Linked DNA regions of Homo sapiens. The protein of the gene in region 5 purifies or fractionates together with the protein of the main gene of each other region. This does not show direct contact. Each region holds a gene or a part of one and is shown on either strand. Other genes may lie near its edges. The genes, in order: PTPN2, SLC19A2, TLCD4, CUX1, TNFSF18, VMA21 and TMEM68.

Region 1 (3,326 bases), on a different chromosome or scaffold from region 5:
GCAAGCATAGATAAAACTCAGTCATAGGCTAACATAAAATAAATACTTGGTTAATATTGGAAAGGAATATATAACTTGTTGGTGTAGCTAGAGAACACAGCATTAAACCAAAGGTTGCTGTCAATCTATTAGCAGAAATAGATATGAGTGGAAATGAACTAGATATGAATTAAAAACTCCTGAAAATAAAAGAAACATTTTTTTTATAATTTTTTCTTCCTTAAGCAACACTACATCATTCAAGTCAAAGTATATATCTGACTCTTAAAATCTGTTAAAATTAGAAAATATTTAATATTATGAGGACCTAAGGATACAACAAGTTTTTTAAAGCTGTAGAACCCATCTAGAATTGCTAACTTTTTCCTCTGGCTGTTACCAGAGAAGGCAGCCACGTCTGTCTCTTTGACCAGCACACCTCATTCAATAAAAAGTCAGGACTTTTTATCATGGGCACAACACGATGTCATGTGTTTTCATGACATCCACCAAAAAATATTATTACTGGTAAAAACTGAACACTATTTAAAGCATCCACTGTCAATGCCCTTCTCAAGGATCTGCTCAGAGAAGGAAAGATGACTAACCTTAGAAGTGTACCAACAAGTGTTCATCACACTGAATGTGGTTTTAAAAATATATGCGACACCACCCAGAAGGACAGAAAGCATACAGAAAGCAAAGCGTAAGCCAATGAAGCGCATTCAGCCAGCTGAGGGGTGAGGCACGTCCTCTCTGGCACTGGCTTCCTCAAGTCTTCACCTGTGTACCGAAAGCAAGCCTAGTTTCAACTGGAAATGTCATAAGGTCTACCTGTATGTGACTTGCAGAGTAACATAAACATACTGCATTTAGCAAAGACAAACCAATGCAAACTGGAAAGAGGTTTTAAACCAATAACAACCTGAAATGTAAGGGTCTTGGATGCCTCAACACAGGTTTAATGCAGACAGACATAAAAAAATGTCCCTCTTACCTCCTCTCCATTTCAAGGTTACAGGACACAGTAATACTGAATCAGGACACAGGCACATGTTATATAAATCTTATTTAATATGTAGTACCACCTACATCCTGCTTTCATACTTTCAACATAATTTAACACATTCAAGGAGACTATGCAAATCAATTCAAAATATCTATCTATACCAATGGTTTTCAAACTTTTTTTTTTTTTTTTTTTGAGACGAAGTCTTGCTCTGTTGCCAGGCTGGAGTGCAGTGGTGCAATCTCGGCTCACTGCAACCTCTGCCTCCCGGGTTCAAGTGATTCTCCTGCCTTAGCCTCCCAAGGAGCTGGGACTACAGGCATGCACCACCACGCCCAGATAATTTTTGTATTTTTAGTAAAGAAGGGATTTCACCATGTTGGCCAGGACAGTCTCCATCTCTTGACCTCGTGATCCGCCCGCCTTGGCCTTCCGAAGTGCTGGGATTACAAGCGTGAGCCACCACACCCGGCCCAAACTGTTTTTTTTGTTTGTTTCTTTTGAGATGGAGTCTCGCTCTGTCGCCCTGGCTGGAGTGCAGTGACGTGATCTCAGCTCACTGCAACCTCCATCTCCTGGGTTCAAGCAATTCTCCTACCTCAGCCTCCTGAGTAGCTGAGATTACAGGTGCCCTCCACCATGCCCAGCTAATTTTTGCATTTTTAGTAGAGATGGTGTTTCACCACGTTGGCCAGGCTGGTCTTGAACTCCTGACCTCAGGTGATCTGCCCACTTCAGCCTCCCAAAGTGCTGGGATTACAGGCATGAGCCACCGCGCCCGACCAAACTGTTTTTAAATGATAACTGCCCCCTTTAAAATACTTAAGCCTTATGCAGAAATCTTATGTGGCATATAAAGAGACAAGGCAGAGATGCTGTGGTTGAAAGTAACCTCTTGACCCACCTGGACATCCAATGAGCATAGTTTGAAAACCACTGAAATAAGGTATGCTATCCATAATAATGTATGCTATCCATGCCTCCTAGCAATTAAATTTGTAACAACAATTTCAAGTTTAAGTAAGACAAATTAAACACTGAATGGAATGTTGAAATCTGAGGAAAGCTAGCATTCAAATGAGCAGTTAAATTCATTAAACAGTTTGCTTTAAAAAATATTCATTAAGTTAAAATGACAATGTAAGGTTTGCATATAATCATACTATTTATTGAAGTAGAAAGAAACTGAAAAGTGTTTACTTCAAAACTTCAGTCTAGTAAACTGAAATTATGAATCATAAAATGCTGCTTCTTACTTTTGCTTCCTAAATCATAATCTACCCCAACTACATTGAAATTTTCATGAAAAATAAACATATCAATAATGGGATTTACAGAAACCAATTTCTTTACAAAGTCTTGACCAACTGTTTACCTGACTATCCCAGTAAGGAGAATTTTCCTTCAAAGATATTTTTAGGAAAAACTTTTGTTTCTTTGTTTGCTTTTCTTTTTAAAATGGGGAAAACTGTAAAACATAAAAGAAATGCAATATATAGTAGAAATTGCTTATTCCAACTTCTAACTGCTCATATCAAACTTCTCTTTAGAAAAATGGAAAATGTATCCAGTACAATTCAATCGACATACAATTTATTTTTTTAGTAACAGATTTTTCAAATTGAGCTCTTAAAAAGTACAGTTAACTACAAAAGATTAAATAGATACTTATAAAATATATTTACCCTGAAATGCTTAAGAATAAAAGTGTTGATGCCCATGTCAATAGTACATTATACATTACACACATTATTTAAATGTCATTTTCTTTCCAATAACGTAGATAAAACCACAATATTTATTGCTTATATCAAGTGCAGGTTAAAATCCAGATAGCCTCCAAAAACAAATCCTGTGATAAAGGATATCTCAATGTTGGTCAGGTGAAATACTGTGTTTGACATGTATGAATACAGTTGCAAAATTTACCAGTTTTTAACAAACATGAATGTCTTTATTTTAGACAGCCATTTACAGTTTGGGGTTCAGAGGAACCTGCAGTCAAGAGTCCTGAGATGTTGGGCTTGTGACTGTAAATATCACTTATCTGGTTGATGTCTATTCTACTGCACCGTTTTTGGGATATGAGGCGTTTGCTGCAGACAAACCCCTATGATTAATGTAGCACTGTCAGTTACTAGTGCAGAAGCTTGCTGGGCAAAATTAATTGTTTATAGGGCATTTTGCTGAAAAAACAGTGTCCAGCCAACAAAAGCGCCAACCAAAATGACTGACATAAACCCCATCTTAGTGAGAATAGGTTGCCAATATAACCACCTTTTTCTTTTTCGTTCATTCTCATTTAGCCTCTGTTTCATCTGCTGCACCTTCTGAGCTG
Region 2 (4,033 bases), 3.6 Mb from region 5:
ATTTACATGTTGTGTCTCATTTACTTTTTGCAACAAACAACCGCCCTTTACTGATAATGGAGATTAAGGCTAAGGGGAACTAAAAGAATGTTGTCTACAATCACACAGCAAGTGATGGAACTGAAATTCCTGTTGGGGTCTTTCTGGTTTAAAGTTTATTTTAAAGATCATTTCTACTATATCCCAATTTTAAAATATGCATTAGAAAGAAAACAGCAAAAACTTCTTTTTTCTATTTAAAAACAAGCAAAAAGAAGGACATAAAAGTTGCCTATATTCCTGCCATCTAGAGAGACTTAATTCTGTCAAGACTGTAGGACACATTGACCATCTTTATTTGTTCCTCTGCCCCAAAAGAAACAAAACTTAAAGTCAGAGAAGCTTAATGAAACAGTAGGATAAAGGCTCCCTATCTTGTGTCTAGAAGTAAGAATTGACAGTGATTCCGTTTTCAAAGCATTTATTGAATAGTATCTTCCAAACAGTATGCTGGCTTTTAGACAGGTTATACAGGTGAATGTAGGGGTCTATCCTTAAAAAGCCTATAAGGCAGTTGTTCTCAACTCTGGCTCATTTAAAACTCTATTGGGAAGTTTTTAGAAAATATCTGTGGCTGGGCATTTTTTTTTTTTAAAGAGACAGAGTCTTGCTCTGTCATACAGACTGGAGTGTAGTGGTGTGATCATAAGTCACTGCAGCCCCAAACTCCTGGGCTCAAGCAATTCTCCCACCTCAGCCTCCTGAGTAGCAGCCATAGGCATGTGCCACAACGCTTGGCTAACACATTTTTTTAAAGCTTCTTAGGAGATGCAGCCATGGTGAAGAGCCAGTATTATGAATTAATTGGGGAAACTGATGCATATAGATCAGTATTAGGAGAGTTTGAGGCTAGGCCAGATGGCTCACATGTCTGTAATCCCAGCAGTTTGGGAGGCTGAGGCTGGTGGATTGCTTTGAGCCCAGGAGTTTGAGACCAGCCTGGGTAACGTGGTGAAACCCTATCTCTACCAAAAAAAAAAAAAAAAAAAAAAAAAAAAATTAGCTGGTTGTGGTAGTACAGGCCTGTAGTCCCAGCTACTGGGGAGGCTGAGGTGGAAGGATCACCTGAGCCTCACCTGAGGCGGAGGTTGCAGTGAACCATGATTCTGCCACTGCATTCCAGCCTAGGTGACAGAGGGAGACCCTGTCTCAAAAAAACAAAAAACAAAACCAAAAAAAAAAAAAGGGTTTGAATGTTGTAATACAAGTACTTTTGGCTTCCGCAAAGTCTTTCTGAATAAGGAAGTCTTTGAACTAGGCCTTGATTAATGGGAAGAATTTATTAGGAAAAAGATGATGGTATTGGGGATAGGAAAGGATATTTCAGGCTGGGCGAGGTGGCTCACCCTTGTAATCCTAGCGCTTTGGGAGGCTCCTCATTTGAGGTCAGGAGTTTGAGACCAGCCTGGCCAACATGGTGAAACCCCACCTCTACTAAAAATACAAAAATTAGCCAGGCGTGATGGTGGGTCCCTGTAATCTCAGCTATTCGGGAGGCTGAGGCAGGAGAATCACTTGAACCTGGGAGGCAGAGGTTGCAGTGAGCCAAGATCGTACCACTGCACTCCAGCCTGGGCGCAGAACAAGACTCCATCTCAAACAAAAAAGAGAGAAAAGACATTTTCAAAGTTATCTGAACTGCTGTTGTCAAGGTTGAGATCTTTGAGGTATTTGTAGGTTGTTTTTTATGAATAAATTCTTTATGAGTATTCCAGGTCCTTTCATCACTAATGTTTTTTGTTTTTTTTTTTTCTCTTTCTACCAGGTCTTCAATGAAATTTATCCAGTATGGACTTACTCTTACCTGGTGCTACTGTTTCCTGTGTTCCTTGCCACAGACTACCTCCGTTATAAACCTGTTGTTCTACTGCAGGGGCTCAGCCTTATTGTTACATGGTTTATGCTGCTCTATGCCCAGGGACTGCTGGCCATTCAATTTCTAGAATTTTTTTATGGCATCGCCACAGCCACTGAAATTGCCTATTACTCTTATATCTACAGTGTGGTGGACCTGGGCATGTACCAGAAAGTCACAAGTTACTGTCGAAGTGCCACTTTGGTGGGCTTTACAGTGGGCTCTGTCCTAGGGCAAATCCTTGTCTCAGTGGCAGGCTGGTCGCTGTTCAGCCTGAATGTCATCTCTCTTACCTGTGTTTCAGTGGCTTTTGCTGTGGCCTGGTTTTTACCTATGCCACAGAAGAGCCTCTTCTTTCACCACATTCCTTCTACCTGCCAGAGAGTGAATGGCATCAAGGTACAAAATGGTGGCATTGTTACTGACACCCCAGCTTCTAACCACCTTCCTGGCTGGGAGGACATTGAGTCAAAAATCCCTCTAAATATGGAGGAGCCTCCCGTGGAGGAACCGGTAAGCTCAGCCTTAAATATCTTGTAATTGCTACTATGGGGGCTGGACCCGTGGTGAAAAAAACAGCAAACTCCCTCTTGGTAGATCTTGTATTTATTTGGATTCATGTTTTATCCTGAGTTGGTTTATTGCTTTATTCATTCATTCATTCATTCATTCAAGCTATGGTTTATTTATATTAGGGATGACACATTTATTTTTTCCTGGAGTGCGTGACCTCCAAAGTCAGACTGATACAGCATTATATTGTTCATGTCAGAGATGCCTTGGATTGCAAGGGCTGTGTCTTCATCTTTTGAGTGTTTGGCATATAAATAAAGCACTCAGAAAATTGTTGCTAAATGAGTAGATGAAATGATTCTAATAAATGATTAAGTATCTACTTCTAGTTTCTGAATTGAAGCCCAAATTATTATTATTATTATTATTATTTTTGAGACAGAGTCTTGCTCTATTGCTGAGGCTGGAGAACAGTGGTGCGATCTCGATTCACTGCAACCTCCGCCTCCAGAGTTCAAGCAGTTCTCCTGCCCCAGCCTCTCCCTAGTAGCTGGGATTATGGGCGCTCGCCACCACGCCCAGCTAATTTTTGTATTTTAGTAGAGACGGGGTTTCATCATGTGGGCCAGGCTGGTCTCGAACTCCTGACCTCAAGCAGTCCACCAGCCTCAGCCTCCCAAAGTGCTGGGATTACAGGCGTGAGCCACCGCACCCAGTCATGAAGCCCACAGTATTTAAGGGTAAGAAGTTAATTTCCTCTTCTGTGCTAGAAGGGATATCTGTTATTTATTTTTCAAATGACAATTTGCTGAAGTGAAGTAGTAATGAATAATACAGACGAAGAGATCACAAGAGGACAGTTTGAGGTGGTGATGGAATAAATAGTAAAAGTGTGTTATGAAGCTGTCTCTTGGAAGAGAGAGGTATGGCATTAAAATAATTTATCCATCTGTTCTGTCTAGCCAGGAAGATGAATTCCTTTCCCTAGACACCCACCCTTTTTTTTTTTTAAATATTCAAGTGTTTTTTTTGTTTCTATTAGGTTATAAGCTGTGAGGAACAAAGTTAATTCCAGCCACACTGTAGTCTTAGTTTTCCTGGGACATGTTTGGAAATAAGCCTATTAACATTCCAGCTTTGTAGGTGGCCTCAGTCGGACTGAGCTCCATAAGCTTTGTAGGCTGGCTGATAATAAAGAACCATTATGAGTAAAGTCTTTCATTCTCTACTGAGAGTTAACTGAATTGTTTAAATGTGGCATCTAATGTCCTCATTGAAAATTACTCTCTTTTCTCTATCCCCGTTCTTCAGCTCTCAAATTACTACTTGAAATTTAGGTTATCATCCCAGAGAGCCTGGGTAGACTTGTAGAGCCTGGGCAACCCTCATCATGAAACTCACCTTGATTACCAGGGCACCTGTGAGCACTTTTTGTCAGAATGACCAAGGATTAAGTGGCAATGAAATGCTGATTTTTTTCATAGTTTGTTAGGTGATATTAGAGAGTCAACAGAGGGTTGATGGGGGAGGGAAGGAGGTGTGTAATCATTTCATAGATTTTATGAAGTGGAAAAAAAATAAAGACACTTCTTTATCTGTTTTGAATGTGTTACAGTGGCTTTAGCT
Region 3 (4,033 bases), about 78 Mb from region 5:
CTGGTTGATCCTGCCAGTAGGAAAAAAAGAAAAATAAAAAAATCTTAAAAAAAAAAAAAAAACCTCTGTGAGTCACACTGGGGTGCAGAACTATGCTTCAGTAATCTTGAGTCTATATTTTCTGATCCTGTACCCGTCAATATATCAATGACTCTGGGCCCATTTAATCCAATGACAGATAGCATCACATGTGACACATACGTCCATCAGCATAGGTGGCCATTAGATAAGATTCAGGTTATGCATAATTCCTTGTTACTTTATCCTTTTCTCTCCTATTCAAGAAAACCTACTAAAATACAAATGAGATAGATGCTATTAAAGGGATAGGATTAAATCTTTCTATAATATTTTTAAATAATTACAAATTCTGATACTTTATTGTTGGTAAATTATGGCAAAACTCACAAGTTATTTATGGTTAGTGTGGTGTCTCTACTCTGTCATCTACCTTTAAGGAGCTTTGCATAGAGTAAAATCTACATTTGCCATGGCCTCTGCATGACTGTGAGGGGAAACAAAACAGGATTTTTCTGATCCCTTCCGCAGCTTAAAAGAAAATTCTCCTTTTAGCAAGCGATTATGGAAGTCTGGATTTTCTTACTATGGGAAATTTTTCTACCAGCTAAGAGTGGCTAAGACCAGAGGTTTATAAGGTGGGGGGGAAAAGAGAACTAAATTATGCACCTACTACTGCTAGTATGGTACTAAATACTGACTGTTCTACCACCAAAGGCCTGGACAGAAATGGGCACCCTTTCCCTACTATACTACACTACACTGCACTGCACTGCACTACACTACACTACGACTATATGTTGGTAGGAAATAAGTTCTGGGCATCCCAAATTGGAATCCTGTGTAAAAACGTGACCGTGTTCTATAGTGGCAATGATGGGGCATTTTTTAACAGGTAATAGACTGACCCAGAGTCTCAAGCACATTTCAATTGTGCTTGAGACTCTGGGTCAGTCTATTACCTATTAATGGAAACCGTTTCAGGGTACCATCAACCTAGAATTGAGGTTTGGAAACAAAATCTATTACTATGTTTAATAATTATTTGCTTAATTGTAATCATTCAAGGTTTTTGATTATTTGCTTATAAGACAGAGATGAAGGTTTGAGCTAACACACAGGACTGGACTGCCAAATCAGACTCATGTGAAACAGTGTTCCTACCTAGCATTAAGCTCTACTAAATGTTACAAAGATAGAGACCATCAAATAATTCAAATGAAGCAGAGAGAGGTCTGGGACATCAAGGGCCACTGGCAACCCAGTTATTTATTTCCTTGCTGTGTGCCTACATGACCTTCTCCAATGAGCTGTGCCTTATAGATACTGGGTTCTCTTTACTATAGGTAATCCTTACCCAGGGACACACTGCTAAGGGCATTTCAGAGTTAATGTTTCTTCTTCCTAACAAACATCAGTACTCAATTTATCCTAAGTCCTGTTGACAAGGAGATTAGACTGGGCCACGTGCCTTCTTTTTCTCCCCTCCTGTCCCCCAAGGAAGTGAATGGATTGGCAGGCCAGCTGCTTTCACCTCTTCCTCCTAGGGTTACTTAAGAACTTGGTGACATAACTTAGCTTATTGTTAATTCCCCCATTGTCTAGTTCTCTTGCATCAGAACTAAATCAAATCATTTCAACAAAACAGGTGCATCACAGAATCTCAGAATTAGAATAGAACCTTAAAGATTATTTAGTGCAAGCTCCTACCTAAAGCTTCTGCTGATTGTATCTACTTTTATATCTATCTGACTAAAGCTATCTTATGGTAGAATAGCCACTTTAAAAGGCCTTTCCATTGTGATAATCTTCCAATCACTGAGGATGTCTTTCTTCCATAAAATAGAAGTCTCCCCTACCTCTCTTTACCACCCCATTGGTCCTAGTCCCAACATCAGAATCAATCCAGAATAAGTCTACTCCCCCTTCCACTTAGTAGTCCTTTCACATTTCCAGGGACATTTCAAGGCCATCATGTCCTTATAGTTCTTAGCTTTTCTAGGCTGACATCTCCAGGTCCTTCAATTGTTTGTTATAAGACAATAGCTACCTAATCTAATATCTCCTCTCTACAGTTAACTAGCAGCTCTCTTCCAGATACATGCAAGTTTAGGGACTTCAGATGATGATGGTCTTGGATGTGGTCTGACTGGGCAAACTACGTGTGAATTGGATACCAGGCCTCCTCTAATAGAATCTAAATTTGAAAAAGCTTTCTGTTTTAGCAGATGTGATAAATTGGCATAACTGAGATGCAATCATCTACCACCTCCAGGTCATTCTTTATCCTTATGCATCGTTGAACCTAAATGCAAAACTTAACATTTATCACTATTAAGTTCCACCCATTTGTTTCAGTTTATAGTTAGGATGAAGCCTTTCTAAAAATGTAATAACATTGTCCAATATGTTATTAGTTCTCCTTCCTAACTTTGTTTCAGTTATCTCATAAGCTTGCTTTAACATTTTTATTATGGCAAAATATATATGACATAAAATTTACCCTTTTGACAACTTTTAAGTGTACAATTCAGTGGCATTAAGTACATTCATTTTGTTATACAACCATCACCACCATCCATCTCCAGAACTTTCCATATTCCCAAATGGAAACTCTGTACCATTAAACAGTAATTCCCCATTATCCCTTCTGCCCAGCCAGGATCACACCACTGCACTCCAGCCTGGTGACAGAGCAAGACTCCATCTCAAAAAAAAAAGAAAATAAATAATAATAATATGGTGGGCTTGGAAATTGATGCATATTGAATGATTTTCAAGTTTAAATGTTTTCCAAATATATTCTAACTCATTATCTAAAGGCATGGTTTAATTGGAGAAAGAAGTGATTCACAAGGAACACATACACAAAAAGTGAAGGCTATCAATGTAGTCAGAAAGGGTGTACAAAGGATGGTAGTTTGTCCTTAAAAATTGAGGATTAAAGCATAAATGTGTTCATTTCTCTTAGAATAAGAGATCAGCTTGTCAGGTTTATTTGATAATTAGTATCCTGCTCCAGGGGTGAAAGATGAGTATCAGGAAAAAAGGCTGTAGGATTTGTACCTCTCTATATAGACAGAAGAGGATTCATTAAGCTCTAAATTACTTTGCCAGAGAATTTCAAAACGTCAGTAAATATAGTAGAAAGATACAAAAATAGCAATCAAGACATTATATAACCTATAATACCTTAAATTCCAAAGAATCTTACTTTTCAACTATTTCTTCAGTAAGGATACATTTTAAAACTGCAGGGAACTTGCTTCTATTCATCACTTTAAGTTTTACTTTGGTTCTAATAACAAAATCATTTAAGAAAAAAAGCTTACTGCAAACAGCTTAAATGGTTACATAAGTATTAAGTCAAAGTGCTTTCCAAATACAAGTTCTCATTATTGCATAAGTGATAAGAATTTCATGATCATTTACCCCCCCAAAATTATAATTATTATTATTTTTGTTAGCTTTACTTGGAATAACAAAATGCACAAAATGACCTGGGAATTCACTGCATAGAAAAAAACCTTCTTATAGTCAATGAGTAACTACTGTAAGATTGGTAAATAACATAGGATCCTTATAGCATCTGTTAACATTCATCATTTCATCTAACTTTTCCTATTTTGTTTCCCTATGAATAGATTCACTTTAAAAGACAAATTTTAAACTATAACAACAGAACATAGACATATCAAAAAAGCAACCATCTTTATGAAAAAAATTGCAGTTGCAATATCTACCTTGAGCTTGTTGGTATATTTATGTTGAAAAACAATTGATTCTAGAGAAACCTAACAAACATACAAGGAATATAAAGTTGCTAGTTTACATATGTATATGTAGAAATTTTAGATATATAATTTAATATGCTTTACTGCCTGAGATCTGTTGGAAGAATCCTCTATTAACCTTGGTCTTGGAATTCTGAAAAAGTCTGAGCAAGATTTCTCCACTGCTCCAACCTACTTAAATGTAATTATGTATATGTAATTGCACATGGAATTAAACAGAA
Region 4 (4,033 bases), on a different chromosome or scaffold from region 5:
GAAGGGGGTGGATTGCTTGAGGTCAGGAGTTTGAAACCAGCCTGGCCAACATGGTGAAACCCTGTCTCTACTAAAAACACAAAAATTAGCTGGGCGTGGTGGTGCACACCTGTAATCACAGCTACTCGGGGGGGCTGAGGCACGAGAATCACTTGAACCTGGGAGGTGGAGGTTGCGGTGAGCGGAGTTTGTGCCACTGCACTCCAGGCTGGGCGACAGAGTGAGACTCCGTCTCAAAAAATAAAATAAAAAGAGTTGATATTCGTTCTGTCTTAAAGATATTAAACTATGTTAGAGAAAACAAAATCATGGCAATTCATTAGGGAGAAAGCCCCAGTTTAAGAAAAATTGTCTTGCTTTTGGGGGGAAATGGAAAGAAGCTTTTGTGTTGCATTTTGTTTTTCGGTTTGGTTTGGTTTGGTTTTTTCATATGCTGGGTGGACAGGATCTGAATGTCTTACATTTAACAAAAAGCTGTCAACACCCAGATAAATTTTTAATGACGGTACGACAGGCATTCTATTTCTCACTGTTTCGCAATACTCACTTAAGAAAGAGCTAATTTGTCAATTTGTTTTTCCCTTAACCAAACTCGGAACACCTCATAACCCATGGTTTACTTGTTAAAAAAATGTTAACTGCATTTCCTTATTGAATAAACACAGCCCAATAGAAAGGTATCTATAAGAAAACAAGCAGTGTGCCAGCATCCACTCAAAGTAACCCCAAGAAAGAACAAGCCACTTCCCTGGTGTCTCAGAGTAAGCTCTGTTAATTTCCTGCTTTGTTAACTGCATCAATCACACACGGTCAAGACCATCCAGACCATCCAAGATCTCAAGCTTCGGCTGATGGAGTCGGCCAGGGCCCGGTCCACTCTGGGGGGTCGTGTGCTTTATAAAGGTTCGGACCCCTTATTGGGCTCATTTTCACAAAGGTTTTCATGAAAGGAAGCAGAACCAAGTCAGTTTCACTTACTAGGAAACTCCCGGCTGGCTAGTTCTTGAGTTGCTGGCAGTGTTAGTAAATCCCTAGGAGGAACACCACCATCCTTGGCTCCGTTCCAGTCACCTGTGTGATTATGTTTCTCTGTGTAGGAAGACCCCTGAGGGTGGGATCTGTACCAGTCCTGCTTGTGGGGTCAGCCAGGGATTGGGCGACGAACTTTGTGGCCACAGTACCTGCACTTCCCATGGCCCGAGGCTCTAATCAACACAAAATTTCTGCCAACGGTCCTGGGCCTCCTGCAGTTAGGAAATGCCGTTGGATTAAAATAAAGAAATTGACAATCTTTATTTTGTGCACTAACATCATCCTCTCTGAATTTAATTACAACAAAATTAAAATTATTTTTATTAGAGAGGCATTAGCTTTTTAAAGGGAAGGTTCTTGACAGGTTTTACAACAAATTAGATGTCTTTTTTTTTTTTTTTTCTGAGACAGAGTCTCGCTCTGTCACCCAGGCTGCATGCAGAGCAGTCACACGATCTCAGCTCACTGCAACCTCCACCTCCTGGGCTCAAGCAATTCTCATGCCTCAGCCTGCCGAGTATCTGGGATTATGGATATGCGCCACCACGCCAGGCTAATTTTTGTATTTTTAGTAGAGATGAGGTTTTGCCATGTTGGCCAGGCTGGTCTCGAACTTCTGACCTCAAGTGATCTGCCTGCCTTGGCCTCCCAAAGTGCTGGGATTACAGGCATGAGCCACCGTGCCCGGCCTTAGACGTCTTTCGAAAAGAATGGTTCACCCTCACTGTGTAATACCCGAATAGGGCAGCACAAATGCTTTTTAAAAATCTTTTAAGTCACAAGCCAGGTGCTTCAAAGCTGTTTCAGGCGCAGGACAAATGAGGGGAACGGCACAGGTTCCCCTCAGTCCTGGTTCATTTCCTGCAGGGAAACCTCCATCCCCGCCAAAGACCACTCTCCTCCATCAACCTTCTCAGAAGACAGCAGAGAAGCTGGACTGATTACAGCTCAGCAAATCCAAAACTGCTCCATACCAAACCTTAGCTGTCCTCAGCAGGAAAATCCAACACTGACACACCATCGAAACTTGGTTCTGAAACACATCCCAAAACCAGGGTGATCGACAGCTTTTCAAGACCACGCCTTGAAAACTGGAATGGGTCAAATAACACAGTCAATCCAGAGGGCCCTGCCATTAATATTTAAGAAAACATCGGCCGGGCACGGTGGCTCACGCCTGTAATCCCAGCACTTTGGGAGGCCGAGGCGGGCAGATCACGAGGTCAGGAGATCGAGACCATCCTGGCTAACACAGTGAAACCTCGTCTCAACTAAAAATAGAAAAAATTAGCCGGGCGTGGTGGCGGGCGCCTGTAGTCCCAGCTACTCCGGAGGCTGAGGCAGGAGAATGGCGTGAACCCGGGAGGCTCAGCTTGCAGTGAGCCGAGATCGCGCCACTGCACTCCAGCCTGGGCCACAGAACCAGACTACATCTCAAAAAAAAAAAAAAACAAAAAAACAAAAAAACTAGCCAGGCATGGTGGCGGGCGCCTATCGTCCCAGCTACTCGGGAGACTAAGGAAGGAGAATGGCCTGAACCCTGGAGGCGGAGCTTGCAGTGAGCCGAGATCGCACCACTGCACTCCAGCCTGGGCGACAGAACCACGTCTCAAAAAAAAAAAAAAAAAAAAAAAAAAGAAAAAAGAAAAAAAGAAAAGAAAAGAAAATAGGGGCCGGGCACGGTGGCTCACGCCTGTAATCCCAGCACTTCGGGAGGCCAAGGCGGGCGGATCACTAAGTGAGGAGATCGAGACCATCCGGGCTAACACGGTGAAACCCCGTCTCTACTAAAAATACAAAAAATTAGCCAGGCCTGGTGGCCAGCGCCTGTAGTCCCAGCTACTCGGGAGGCTGAGGCAGGAGAATGGTGTGAACCCGGGAGGCGGAGTTTGCAGTGAGCTGAGATAGTGCCTCTGCACTCCGGCCTGGGCGAAAGAGCGAGACTCTGTCTCAAAAAAAAAAAAAAAGAAAGAAAATATCCCCCTCACCAAGTTAATACTTTTATGGTTGCTGGTGGAGCTTATATTCTCTAAATGTAGAATTTTTTTGGGGGCGGGGGGGAGTATCTTCTCTCTGAATTCTATATCATTATTGGGGTATAATAAAATGTACCTACATGCTCTGGTCAGTCAAGGTTCATCAAGTCAGAAATCACAAATGAATTCACAAATTCTTTGCTCTAAAGTCATATAACAATGCAGATATTAAATTGCTTGTCTAACTATACCATTAGATTCCTTTTTCACTCCATTATCGGCACACACACACACTTCTCTCGGCATCCAGGCATTCACAGGTATCCAGTTCCTAAAGCGCCCAGCACGACTGCTTTGTCCAGGTAAGCAACAGTGGGACATAAGGAGAGGCTGTGGGGCCCCTCTTCAAATAGCTTCGACAAAACGAATGGCTATAAGTGAAAAGTGTCCCTGGGCTTTGCTATAAAAAGACTCAAACATGGGATTCCAAGAATTCCACCTGTTTCCAATTAGATACCAGAATTGCTTGAGTGTTTAAGCTACACTCGCTTGCTACTTACACAAAACAATTCTTCCGGGTTTTGTGAACATTTTAAATATGTTAAAATAAGATTAAGGGTCTGGTTTAAACAATCGGAGGCAGGGAAATTTCGGTGGAAACCAAAACTCTCTCTCTGCAGCGATAACGCGGGGCTTCAGACAAAACAAAAGGACAAGACAGACAAATTTCTGTCTTTGACAATTATAATAAAAGTCACTTTTCATAGAGCAATTACATTTTTTAAAGTTATGTATTCAATAATTTTAAATAGGTCTTAAGTAATTTCTACAATAACTCACGATCCTGGATCCTGTATATTTGAATAATGGTTAGAGTTGCCTTTTACATACCATTTGTGTTACAATTCGTCAGATATACCTGTCTGTGAAATTTACATGTGACAAATGTGTAAACTATTTGAAATGGAAGCACGGGTAGGAATTTAACCTACCTCTGTAGGATTCTTCATATGATGAATTTCTCT
Region 5 (4,667 bases):
ACCATCACTGTGATACTCTCTAATTATTGCCACCACTAAAAATCCATCTAATTGCAAAATCATAAATTTGGCTCTGAGATATAGTGTTTGATTGAGAGAGTGATATAGGTAGGCAAAGACTATCCATATTGTTAAATGGTCTTGTTAAATTTTTGCCCATTATTATCTCATTAATAGTAATGGGGCAAATATTAATCACTCCCCTCTACTGGGAGCTACTTTATGTCAGATACTCTACTGTCTCATTAATCCTTAGCACAACTCTACAAAAATTAGGTTGCTCATTTTGCAGATGAGGAAATGAGGATGAGAGGGATTAAGTAACTAGCCTAAGGTCATGCAGCCAATAAAAGGCAAGAATGAGATCTACACCCAGCCTGTCTGGGTCAACACTCTCACCTCTACCACTCTGTGGGGTAAGTTTCTATTTATAATTCTGCTGATGTTTGGAAGTAGTAAATACCCACTTTTAAAGACACATATGGGTTCGTTATTTTTGCTTAGAAGGATCAGTTGCTTTTGTAACCTCTTCTTGATTTAAGGCTAGATTTACGTAGTTCGGCTCAAAATGGCCAAAACAATCATTCTCTCTCCAAACCAACCCTAATCAAATCATCAGTGAAAATAAAATCTGCTCTGCTTTTAAGTATAAGTACAACTTCCCCTTCTGAAAGTATCCTTCATTTTGCTGAAGTTCAGACTCTGCTGAACATTTGATTTCTTAGTGATAATTCCTGTGAGATTATTTTCACTGAGGGATTGACCAAACTCCTTGGACTCACAGCTATCCTTTTAGTTAAATATTTTCTCAAAGAAGAGAGAAAAAAAGAAAAAAATTGACCCAAGGAGCCAAGCTTCCCATCTAACACTTTTTAAAGTGTTACACTTTCTTTTAAGTGTACACTTTTTAAAGTAGTGTCTAGACAATCTGGAAAGTGGGACTTTGTATGTAAAAACTAGAGTGGAGACCAAAATAAAACTTCACGGTTCATGGGTATTGTGACAATGTGGAAGTGGCCACATCATAATGAATCACTATCTGCCAGCCTCTCAGACTTCTTTTCCAGAGATATTTATTTGTGGCCAATAGGGAAAGGGAAGTACAGGTAAGTGGAAAGTGAAATGCAGAAGCTAATATCATGTATGGTTGGCCAGGCCACTGGCTTTTCCCATAGAAACAAATCCTGCAAGTGTCCTGTCAGAACAATATTCTAAAAACATTTTATACTTCCCCAAATTTGAAACAAACTCTGGGTTATCTTTAGAGGTAGAACATTTCATTGAGAAACTGGATCTAGGAGAGAGAAACCAGAATCAGAGCTCAAACACATGGGATTAATCCAGTTTGATTCTGAAGAGAGGTGTCCCAGATGATCTGGCATTATTAGACTTTCTCTTTCCCTTTGCAAGAACTGCTGGGTGCCTTTGGGAAAGGCTTCTGTGTATTCATTCCTGAGTCATATGTAGGAACTGATGATGCTTATATTCAGTGTTCTTCAGGGTTATCTGGCTAATTAATCTTATAATTTTTAGAAGAAAGAAGCACTTCCAAATTTAAGTTATTGCTATTCTCACCCTTCCTCTTCTTCAGAAATCTAGACACTAAGAATTTCTGACAATTCTTTCTTTCAACTTCACTGACCCAGAAAGTTCACACTTCTGCTTCATACATTTCTTGAGAGAGCAGGGTTGTAATTAGAAATGCCTCTGTTGCACATAAGCCTTGTATACAGTTATGGAATACAAATTAATGGGCTACTGTGGAAAAATTGGCCAAAGCTATACCTACTCTAAATTAATATCAATAGGGGACTGCTTCCTCCTGCATCTTTTCTCAATTACTTTTACTTATCTTAAGTGGTAGAACTATATCTTTGAAATCTTTGCTGGTCAGTTCCCTTAAGAAAAGTGTTTCTGCAGTCACATTTCAACTCTTTCTCAGATGGACATATGCCACTTTATTCTCCCCAAAACTTAGAGTCTTCAAATTTAGCCAGAAATAGGCTAAATCCTGAAATAAATAAAGCATTTCTTATTTTCTTTTTGATCAGTGCTACGTAGTTAACTGTGAGGAAAGATTTTTTAGTAAAGAACAAAACTAATCTCCATTCCCAGTGTACCATCCCATTCTCTAGGCCCACAGCTTGGCCTGCATCTCAATGGGAAATTCCTGACAAGCATCAGGGGCTTCCCAAATAGATATGGGCTTTCTCATTCCTCCATGAAGTCTTCCCTGATCAACTCAATCTAAAGTCATTGTTCCCTGCTTTTGAGTGACTTAGGCATTTATTCTTCATACTACCCTTAAATAAATTCTTGATCATGACATTTTATAGCTAGAAGAAACATCATAATAAATCCATTCCCCTACCACCAGTTTTTTTAGATAAAGAAGCTGCAAACTAGAGAGATTAAATGTCTTTATCAAATTTATACAGCTGGTTATTAGGAGACCCAGAACCAGAATCCAGATCTTCTTACACCTAGCTCAGGGCCACTTCCCTCCTCAAAGACACACAAACCACCTGTCATTTACTTAATCCTGTCTTTCACTATTTTTTTAAGTCTTTTCCATAAATAAGACTATAGCTTGCATCCCATTCCTTGATATTCATTCATATTTTTACCTTTTTTATTCCACCAAGAGCTATAGCAGAGGGAAGGAAAAATACTCCACAGGCCCCTGTCAATTGGCTTAACCAGTTCTCTCTATCTAACAGAGTTCTGCAGCTAACATTTAGCATTTTCTGATACCTTTTATCTCAAAACCTTTAGATAAACTTCAAACGCCATGTCATGACAATATTAGAATTGTATTTACATTATGTATACACATCTCTTCCTTCCAACTATTGCTAACAATACTGAGTGACAATGATAACAACTAGAAAAACAAATAAATAGAGGATTATAGCAAATAGTAACCTTAGGTACAATTGCCTCCTTACCTCTAATTGGAGAAAAATAAAGATTAGCCAACTGAAGGAGCAAAGAAATAGCAACATAACTATTGAGCAAAAGAGCCACAGCTTCCAGGATGATCTCTGAGCTCCTTGAGTTCTTGAATGGCTTAAAGGCATATTTTCCAAGTGGCTCAAACACATTTTTGGAGAAATGAGAGCTGTGGAAAACAAAAATTCACAAGTGATGGGTGAAGGATGCAATGTCATGTTTTGTAGCAATATGGTAATTAGTAGTGGGTGTGGAAGGCGGAGTTTTCCTTCTGTCACTGTGTTAGAAAATGATACTTATAACTTAAGTGCTGACTCTCATTTGGCACCAGATCAAATACAACAAAAGGAACGGAAGGCTGAAAGCCAACACAAACTCAGAACATAAAAAAAAAAGCACAAGGGAAGTTCAGAGGGGAAAAAAATTTCTTTCCTAAATCAAACGGCAGTACAGTGCACGTGTAGAGGAGGCTTGGGAGAATAAAGTGGTGTGCTCTCATCTAAGAAAGTATTCCAGATTATTTCTAGATAAGAAAATCACTTTTTATAAGAAAAAATAAAGTTTGAGATTAATCCCCCTACCATACTCCAGATATCATGTACATGAGCGGCAGAGTGTTAGGAAGTTGGAGAGGCTAGGATCTCTAGTTTGGAAAAAATAGAGTTTTAATCAAGTCATCATCTTGTTTACCTTAAATACCCACAATTTTTATTTGTCAATTATACTTCAGTAAACCTGGAAAAATAAAATCTATACTCACAAAAATGTTTCATCAATTTCTAGTGTATAGAATGCGTTCATTCTGAGTCTCTAGAAAATATCAAGTGTATTACAAGAATTTAATAAAAAATTGTAAATACAACAAGCTCAATTTTATATTTCATCATTTTTAAACTCTGATAATCTAGTTCTGGCATAAGAAGTTATTTTACAGAAGGATATTTTCCTGCATCCTGCCCTCAGCCAGAGCTTATACTCTATTCCAAAAAAAAAAAAAAAAAAACCTTGGGTTTTCTTCCTGGGCCCAAAAATATGGGTTTACTACAAAATTGAGGAAGTCTCCTGGTTCTATGGACCTCAGTCACACAGGCTTTTAAATCAGACAGACCTCAAGAGCAGAGGCTGGCACTGCCCAGTTCCTACCTGCTCTGTGGCCTTAGGCATGTTACTTGAGTTCTCTGAGCTTCAGTTTCCTTCACTGTAAAATGGAGAAAATTTTCACTTTATAATGCTTTTGTGGAGAATGAAATGAAGGTGAAAAGTTTATGCATTCCATAAATGTTAGATTATCTCTTCTCTACCCTCTTTAGCGATGTAGTGAAGTTTAATTCAATTATTAAATCCTAGAAAAGAATGAACATTCTTTATCTTTCCCACAAGATAAAATTCACCTAAAGTTTACTTAAACAAAAGGAAGTACAATGAAAGTATTTTGGAAAACCTATTTTTTAATCTAAGAGAGAATTGACGATTTATAAATTAGAAAAAAGTCCAGAGATTTAACATCCTCCTTTACAAAAAAAGGAAACTAAGGACAAGAGGGTGTGAGTAGTGTCTCAAATCACTGCTGGCTGGTTAATGATGGAGTGAAAACTCAAGCCCACAGATACTGCTTTGTAATCCAACCATTTTGTCTTAATATTGCACTATTTACAATATTATTAGCAATATTTCTCTCTGAACTGTCAAAATTTTAATTTGGGCCCTATTTTACC
Region 6 (4,033 bases), on a different chromosome or scaffold from region 5:
CCAATAGGAACAGTGATCATTAAAGCTGTGAAGAACAGGAGCGTCTTCAGTGTAGATGCTAATGAGCTTTCATTTCTGGAATAAAGTAAACAAAGAGAAAATCAGAACCTGCACAGTCATATCCAAACGCTCTTATGTCCCTGAAACTATAAACATCCACAAATGAGATGCTATGCAGGAGGAAGATCACAGGCAGGGACTCGTAATCCGAAGATCCTAGAGAACCAGCTGTGGGTAGTGGGAATTTCTTGAGCTGGAACATGAAGATTATACACCACCTTTAGGGACTGTCATTCATATCCAGTGTAAGACGAAGCGTCAGGGCACCTCAGATCAACTGCCAACAAGCTGGGTGAACAAACTAAGTGAAGAAACTCAGTGCCCCTGCCTCTGGAACTGGAGCTTTTACCCAGGGAAGCCACGGCGGACAGCGGCACCAGTGCCCAACCCATGCGGCAACCGTGTCCACCAGCACCAGACACCAGAGCTGGGAACGCAGCAGGCACCATGGGTGGATCAGCGCGCCCTCTTTTGCTGGAATCAGAGCTTCCGTCACGGGAAGCGACCAGCTTGCTGTCCTCCAGCATGAGACAGTGGACCAGGGAACTAACGAGGCAGACACACCTGTGCACCCTCCCACACTGGAATCAGAGCTTTTGCCCAGGGAAGCCACTGTCACACTGGTCCCTGAGCCCACGCAGCAACCCTGACCACCAGCACCGGACACCAGACCAGGGAACTCGGCAGGCACCACAGGTGGAGCAGTGTGCCCTCTCCCGCTGGAATCGGAGCTTGCATCTGGGAAAGCTGCCAGCCTCCTGTCCTCCAGCACCAGACAGTGGACCAGCAAACTAACCAGGTGGAGCCGACGCACCAGCGTGCCCTCCCCCACTGGGATCAGAGCTTTGGCCCAGGGAAGCCACTGCCACACCAGTCCCTGAGCCCGTGCAGCAACCCTGACCACCAGCACCAGACACCAGACCACTGAAGGAGGTAGGCAGGGCGAACGGACCAGTGCGCCCTCCCCAGCTGGAATAGGAACTTCTGTTATGGGTGAAAAATCGAGCTAGAGGGAATACTTCCAAACACGTTTTAAGAGGCTCCAATCACCTTGATACCTAAGCCAGACAGACACAGCAAGAAAACTACAGGACAACATCACTGATGAACACTGGTGCAAAATTCCTCAATAACATATTTTCAAACCAAATTCAACAATAATCAGGCCAGGTGTGGTGGCTCACACCTGTAATCCCAGCACTTTGGGAGGCCGAGGCAGGCGGATCACTTGAGGCCAGGAGTTCGAGATCAGCCTGGCCAACATGGCAAAACCCAGTCTCTACTAAAAATACAAAAATTAGCTGAGAGTGGTGGCGTGTGCCTATAGTCCCAGCTACTTGGGAGGCCAAGGCACAAGAATCCCTTGATCCTGGGAGGCAGAGGTTGCAATGAGCCAAAATCACACTCCAGTCTGGGCAACAGAGCAAGACTCTGTCACAAACAAACAAAACCAATACATCAAAAAGATTATATATTATGACCAAGTAGGATCATCTCAGTTGATGCAGAAAAAGCACTTGACAAACTTCCGCATCCTTTACTGAGCTGAAAAAGAAATCAAGAAAACAATCTCATTTATAATAGCATTAAAAAAAAATACTTAGGGGCCAGGCTCAGTGGCTCATGCCTGTAATCCCAGCACTTTGGGAAGGCTGAGGCTTGAGGCCGGGAGTTTGACGCAAGCCTAGGTAACACAGCAAAACCCCACCTCTACAAAAAAAAATTTTGATAATTCGCTGGGCATGGTGGCACGTGCCTGTAATCTCAGCTACTCAAGAGGCTGAAGTGGGAGGATTGTTTGAGCCCCAGAGGTCAAGGCTGCAGTGAGCAGTGATTGGGGCACTTTACTCTGGCCTGGGTGACAGAGCAAGACTCTATTTCAAAAAAAAAGAAACTTAGGAATAAATTTAACCAAGGCGATGAGTGACTTGTACACTGAAAAGTATAAAACACTGATGAAAGAAATTGAAGATGACACAAATAAATGTAAAGATATCCTGTGTTCATGGATTGGAAGAATTAATACTGTTGAAATGTCTACAGCACCCAAAGCAACATACAGATATAACACAATCTCTATCAAAATTACAGTAGCATTCTTCATTAAAATAGAAAAACAATCCTAAAATTCATCATACAGAACCACAAAAAGCCCCAAATAGCCAAAGCAACATTGAAAAAGTTGTAAGCATCACACTTTCTGATTTAAAATATTACAGTTATAGTAATCAAAACAATATGGTATTGGCATAAAAACAGAAACATATAACAATGAAACAGAATAGAGCCCAGAAATAAATCCAAACATATATGGCCAACTAATCTTCGACAGGGGTGTTAAGAGGAACACAATGGGGAAAGGACAGTCCCTTCAATAAGTGGTACTGGGAAAACAGGATTTCTACATGCAAAGAAAAAAACTGGACTCTTACACCATAAACAAAAATCAACCCAAAATGGATAAAATAACTAAAACATAAAGATATAAAGTTTTAAGACATAAAAGAACACAGAGGGAAAGGTCCTTAACATTGGCCTCAGTAATGATTTTTTGGATATCACACCAAAAGCTCAGGCTACAAAAGAAAAAATAAAGCGGCTTGCATCAAACTAAAAAGCTTCTGTACTGCAAAGGAAACAATCAACAAAATGAAAAGGCAGCTTACAGACTAGGAAAACATATTTGCGAACCACCTATCTTGTAAGGGGTTAATACCCCAAAATTTATAAAGAACTCTTACAACTCAGCAGAAAAACCACCTGATTAAAATATGGACAACAGCTGGACAGACATTTCTCCAAAGACATAAAAATGGCCAAGAGATAAATGAAAATGTGCTCAACATCACTAAATCATCAGGGAAATGCAAATCAAAACCACTATGAGATATAACCTCACACTTCTAAGGACAGCTATTATCAAAAAGGCAAGTGATAACAAATGTTTGTAAAAGTGTGGAGAAAAAGAAACCCTACTACATTGTGACTGGAAATGTAGACTGGTACAGCCATTATGGAAAACAGTTCCTAAAGAAATTAAAAATAGAACTACCACACAGCCCAGCAATCTCTCTTCTGGAATATAAGCAAAGGAGATGAAATCACTACCTCGTAAAAATATCTGCACTTCCATGTTCATTGCAGCATTATTCACAATAGCCAAGATTTGAAAACAACCTACGTGTATGTAGACAGACAAAATAAAGAAACCGTAGTGTATATATACAAGGGAATATTTTATTCAGCCTTAAAAGAGGACATCTGCCATTTGCCACAACATGGATGGACCTGGAAGACATGTTAAGTAAAATAAGCCAAACGCAGAAAGACGAATACTACATGAGCTCACTTATATGTGGAATCTTTAAAAAAAAAAAAAAAAGGTCAACGGTCAACTACACAGGGACAGAGAATAAAACAGTAGTTACCATGGCGGTGGGGGTGGGAGGCTGGAGGGGAGGAAATAGGAAGATATACATCAAAGGACACAAAGCAGTAGATATATGGATTAACAAGTGAGATATCTAATGTACAAGAGGACTATAGGCAATAAAGTTGCATGGTATTAGGGACTTTTGTAAATAAGATTTTAGCTGCCTCTGGTCACACACACACAAAAGTATGTGAGATGACAGATATATTAATCTGCTTCACCATAGTAATCATTTTACTATATGTATGCCATAACATCATGTTATGAACCTCAAATATACACAATGAAATTTATTTAAAAAGAACCTGAACAAAAAACCCACAAAAACATTGAGTAAAATATATATTAAATATAACTAACCTCATGCCTATTTCTTGATCACATGCTCTGCACATGTGTGAGAAATTAAATGCTTACTGCTGTAAAAAAAAAAGTTCTAATATTTTCTTTTGGTACTTAAATGGATCATCTTTTAGCAGGCCTCATTTTGGTTATTACTGAGCTATACAACTCTCATTTAATATACATAAGCTCCCTTAA
Region 7 (4,033 bases), on a different chromosome or scaffold from region 5:
GCAACACTGTAGAGCTTTCTATGCACGCTTTTTTTTTTTTTTTTTTTTTGAGATGGAGTCTGGCTCTGTTGCCCAGGCTGGAGTGCAGTGGCGTGATCTCCACTCACTGCAATCTCCGCCTCCCGGGTTCACACCATTCTCCTGCCTCAGCCTCCCGAGTAGTTGGGACTAAAGGTGCCCGCCACCACGCCCGGCTAATTTTTTGTATTTTCAGTAGAGACAGGGTTTCACCATGTTAGCCAGGATGGTCTCGATCTCCTGAACTTGTGATCCGCCCGCCTCGGCCTCCCAAAGTGCTGGGATTACAGGCATGAGCCACCGTGCCCGGCCTCTATGCACGCTTTTATCTAAGTGAGATGGAGAAGGCATCAGAGGGCACTGAGCAGAAGGGTGAGGTTGCCTGGCTTGGGTTTTAAGTGGCTGCTGTGTTGAGAATATACTACACAGGCAGCAAATAGGAATATTTGCAATAAGTGATGAAAGTGGCTTACATACATGTGGCAGAGGGAAGGCAGTAGGAAATGGTCAGTTTCTGGATATATTTTGAAGATAATGCCAACAGGATTTGCTAATAAATTGACGTAGAATCTGAGATAATTATATGGTGTTTTGGCAACCTGAGTTTGTATCCTGGGAGGCTCTGCCACTTACCATGTGACCTAGCAAGTACTTAAATATCTTTCTGCCTCAGTTTCTTCATTTGTAAAATAAAAATAGCATCTACCTAATAAGACTATCGTGAAGATTACGTGTAAAAAAACCTAGCAAGTACTTAAATATCTTTCTGCCTCAGTTTCTTCATTTGTAAAATAAAAATAGCATCTACCTAATAAGACTATCGTGAAGATTACGTGTAAAAAAACTCTTAGAAGAGTGCTTTCTACCATATAAGCATTAACTATTGCTATCATCATTATTATTCACTTATAAGCATTAACTATTGCTTATAAGCATCTAAGCATAGTTAATGCTTATCACATATAAGCATTAACTATTGCTATCATCATTATTATTCGCTTGCTTGTGAAAAAATAAGAGTTGCAGGAAGAACAGGTTTGAGGGTGGGATGGAGATCAGGAATTCCATTTTAAACATGTTAAGTTTAAGATGTCTATTGGACATCCAAGTGAAGACATTAAGTAGGCAGCCGGACATCAGCAGTTTAGCAGGAAGATCAGGAGGAGGATACAGGGTATAAGTGGATGGCCCTGATATAAATCTAGGAATTGGTAGCATATAGACAATATTTAAAACCATGGAACTAGAGAAGATCCCTCCAGGGAACGAATATAGAGTAAAAAAGAATTTCTGGCCAGGCACAGTGGCTCACACCTGTAAACCCAGCACTTTGGGAGGCCGAGGCGGGAGGATCACCTGAGGTTAGGAGTTCGAGACCAGCCTGACCAACATGGAGAAACCCCGTCTCTACCAAAAATACAAAATTAGCCGGGCGTGGTGTCGCACGCCTATAGTCCCAACTACTTGGGAGGCTGAGGCAGGAGAATCGCTTGGACCTGGGAGGCGGAGGTGCAGTGAGCCGAGATCATGCCACTGCACTCCAGCCTGGGCAACAACAGCGAAACTCAGTCTCAAAAAAAAAAAAGAATTTCCAGGACTGAGTCTTGAGGCACCCAACATTTTAGAAGTTGGGAAGACAATGGCAAGCCAGCCTCCTCCTTGCAGAAGCAGTATCCTGGAAGTAAGAGCTTCAAGAAGGAAGGCATATTCTGCTGTTTTAAATGCTGTTGACAGGCCTAGTAAGGTAAGAGATCACTTCCTTCCTGTAGGAGACAGCTTTAAAAAAAAAAAAAAAATGATAATTGATCACTGGATTTTACAACACAAAGGAAACTGGCAAACCCTGGTAAGAGCTGTTTTTGTATAGTAGGAAACAAAACACTTTGGACAGGAGAGGACAGAAGCAGCTCCCCTTTACCCTTGAAGTTCAAGAATGAATGGGAGAAAATGAATTGGAAACAGCAAATATAAAAACTCACAAAGGAGGAAAGAAACAGGTGGGTATCTAGAAGGGAACACAGGTGAGTTGTTCCTTGCTGCTGCTGCTGCAGCTGTTGCTTTAAGACAGAGGCCAGGCATGGTAACTCACACCTGTAATCTCAGCACTTTGGGAGACTGAGGCAAGAGGATCGCTTGAAACCAGAAGTTCAAGACCAGCCAGGCAATATAGTAAAAACTCATCTCTAAAAAAAAAATTTAGGCCAGGTGCGGTGGCTCACACCTGTAATCCCAACACTTTGGGAGGCCAAGTAGGGGCAGATCACTTGAGGCCAGGAGTTCAAGACCAGCCTGGGCAACACAGTGAAACCCCATCTCTACTAAAAATGCAAAAATTAGCCAGGTGTGGTGATGCATTCCTGTAATCTCAGCTACTCGGGAGGCTGATGCACAAGAATGGCTTGAACCCAGGAGGTGGAGAGTGCAGTGAGCCGAGATCATGCCACTGCACTCCAGCCTGGACAACAGAGTGAGACTCTGCTCAAAAAGAAAAAAAAATTAAAAATTAGCCGGGCATGGTGACATGTACCAATGATCCCAGCCACTTGGGAGGCTGAAGGGGGAGGATCACTTGAGCCTGGGAGGTAGAAGCTGCAGTGAGTAATGATCAAGCCACTGCACTCCAGCCTCAGTGAAAGAGCAAGAGACTCTGTCTTTAAAAAAAAAAAAAAAAAAAAAAAGGGCCAGGCACAGTGGTTCATGCCTGTAATCCCAGCACTTTGGGAGGCCAAGGCGGGTGGATCACTTCAGGTCAGGAGTTTGAGACCAGCCTGGCCAACATGGTAATGCCGTCTCTACTAAAAACACAAAAATTAGCCAGGCATCATGGTGCATACCTGTAGTCTCAGCTACTTGGGAGGCTGAGGCACTAGAATTGCTTGAACCCGGGAGGCAGAGGTTATATAAGCCGAGATTCTGACAGTGCACTCCAGCCTCAGGGACAGAATGAGAATCCCATCTCAAAAAAAAAAAAAAAAAAAGATAGGAGAAAATACACCCATGTTCAATGTCAACGATAATTCATCAATGGGAGTGAGAAACAGATGATGTAGGAGAGGAGATAATTGTTAGAGCTCTGTCCTTGACTAGGCCAAAGGGGACAGGATACAATGTACAAGTGGATGGCCCTGAGAAGTTTGTGCCAGATACTATTCTAAATATATCAGTAAATAAAATAGTTATCTAAGAAAACATACGAAAAACACTTACTTTCTGGCACATAGTAGGCACCTAACAAATGCTGGCTAAATATACAACTGAACTGTGTTCGTCTAAAACTTTTTTTTTTTGAGACAGAGTCTCACTCTGTCACCCAGGCTGGACTGCAGTGGCTCGATTTCAGCTCACTGCAACCTCCACCTCCCAGGCTCAAGCAGTTCTCATACCTCAGCCTCCCGTGTAGCTGGGACTACAGGCAAGCACCACTGCACCCAGCTAATTTTTGTATTTTTAGTAGAGATGGGGTTTTGCCATGTTGGCCAGGCTTGTCTGGAACTCCTGGCCTCAAGTGATCCGCCCGCCTCCACCTTCCAAAGTGCTCGGATTGCAGGCGTGAGCCACCCTGCTTGGCCTCATCTAAATCTTTAACAGAAATCTGGATCAAAACAGTATCCTAAAACCTGCTACTAGAGAACTATCAGAGGAATTTGAATAAAATGCCTTTCAGTAGATAAAATGTAGCACTTACTTTTGATAATATGACAAAGTGTCTTTAAATCTCAATGCAACCCCTTAATTGTGCAGATAACAAAAAAAGTAAACACAGAAAGCCAAGTTTGCTTGCTTAAAATTACTAAATTAATTCAGTAAAAGCCAAGAACTAAAATTAAAATCTAGTCATCTTACCTCCTGGTCTGGCTTCCAACACACTTTCTTTGATATATCTCTCTTTTTCTCTCTTGACAGAAAGAAAATATTAAGATTGCAATTTCTGTCTTCCCTATACTTCTGCCTGGCCCTTCCCCTTCCCCCTGAATTTACCTGGGGGTGTAACTGACTTCTTATCACTTTATTTTAA

The links.
Region 1: the proteins of TNFSF18 (region 5) and PTPN2 purify together in Homo sapiens (affinity purification with mass spectrometry; one large-scale study listed by BioGRID and IntAct). This does not show direct contact.
Region 2: the proteins of TNFSF18 (region 5) and SLC19A2 purify together in Homo sapiens (affinity purification with mass spectrometry; one large-scale study listed by BioGRID and IntAct). This does not show direct contact.
Region 3: the proteins of TNFSF18 (region 5) and TLCD4 purify together in Homo sapiens (affinity purification with mass spectrometry; one large-scale study listed by BioGRID and IntAct). This does not show direct contact.
Region 4: the proteins of TNFSF18 (region 5) and CUX1 purify together in Homo sapiens (affinity purification with mass spectrometry, with the first as the bait; one large-scale study listed by BioGRID). This does not show direct contact.
Region 6: the proteins of TNFSF18 (region 5) and VMA21 purify together in Homo sapiens (affinity purification with mass spectrometry; one large-scale study listed by BioGRID and IntAct). This does not show direct contact.
Region 7: the proteins of TNFSF18 (region 5) and TMEM68 purify together in Homo sapiens (affinity purification with mass spectrometry; one large-scale study listed by BioGRID and IntAct). This does not show direct contact.

What each region holds. Positions count from the first base shown.
Region 1 is NC_000018.10:12,791,119-12,794,444, forward strand, and holds the end of PTPN2 (tyrosine-protein phosphatase non-receptor type 2), read right to left. Parts: coding exon 3,160-3,326; 3' UTR 2,457-3,159; coding exon of another isoform or gene 2,405-2,456; 3' UTR 1,034-2,404; downstream 1-1,033. UniProt on the Homo sapiens protein: Non-receptor type tyrosine-specific phosphatase that dephosphorylates receptor protein tyrosine kinases including INSR, EGFR, CSF1R, PDGFR.
Region 2 is NC_000001.11:169,475,529-169,479,561, reverse strand, and holds part of SLC19A2 (thiamine transporter 1), read left to right. Parts: intron 1-1,804; coding exon 1,805-2,407; intron 2,408-4,033. UniProt on the Homo sapiens protein: High-affinity transporter for the intake of thiamine. Mediates H(+)-dependent pyridoxine transport.
Region 3 is NC_000001.11:95,151,780-95,155,812, reverse strand, and holds part of TLCD4 (TLC domain-containing protein 4), read right to left. Parts: intron 1-4,033.
Region 4 is NC_000007.14:101,820,308-101,824,340, reverse strand, and holds part of CUX1 (Homeobox protein cut-like 1), read right to left. Parts: intron 1-4,033. UniProt on the Homo sapiens protein: May be involved in intra-Golgi retrograde transport.
Region 5 is NC_000001.11:173,047,793-173,052,459, forward strand, and holds the start of TNFSF18 (tumor necrosis factor ligand superfamily member 18), read right to left. Parts: upstream 3,150-4,667; 5' UTR 3,105-3,149; coding exon 2,949-3,104; intron 1-2,948. UniProt on the Homo sapiens protein: Cytokine that binds to TNFRSF18/AITR/GITR. Regulates T-cell responses. Can function as costimulator and lower the threshold for T-cell activation and T-cell proliferation. Important for interactions between activated T-lymphocytes and endothelial cells.
Region 6 is NC_000023.11:151,399,673-151,403,705, reverse strand, and holds part of VMA21 (vacuolar ATPase assembly integral membrane protein VMA21), read right to left. Parts: intron 76-4,033; coding exon 1-75. UniProt on the Homo sapiens protein: Required for the assembly of the V0 complex of the vacuolar ATPase (V-ATPase) in the endoplasmic reticulum.
Region 7 is NC_000008.11:55,766,346-55,770,378, forward strand, and holds part of TMEM68 (DGAT1/2-independent enzyme synthesizing storage lipids), read right to left. Parts: intron 1-4,033. UniProt on the Homo sapiens protein: Catalytic subunit of the alternative triglyceride biosynthesis pathway, which mediates formation of triacylglycerol from diacylglycerol and membrane phospholipids.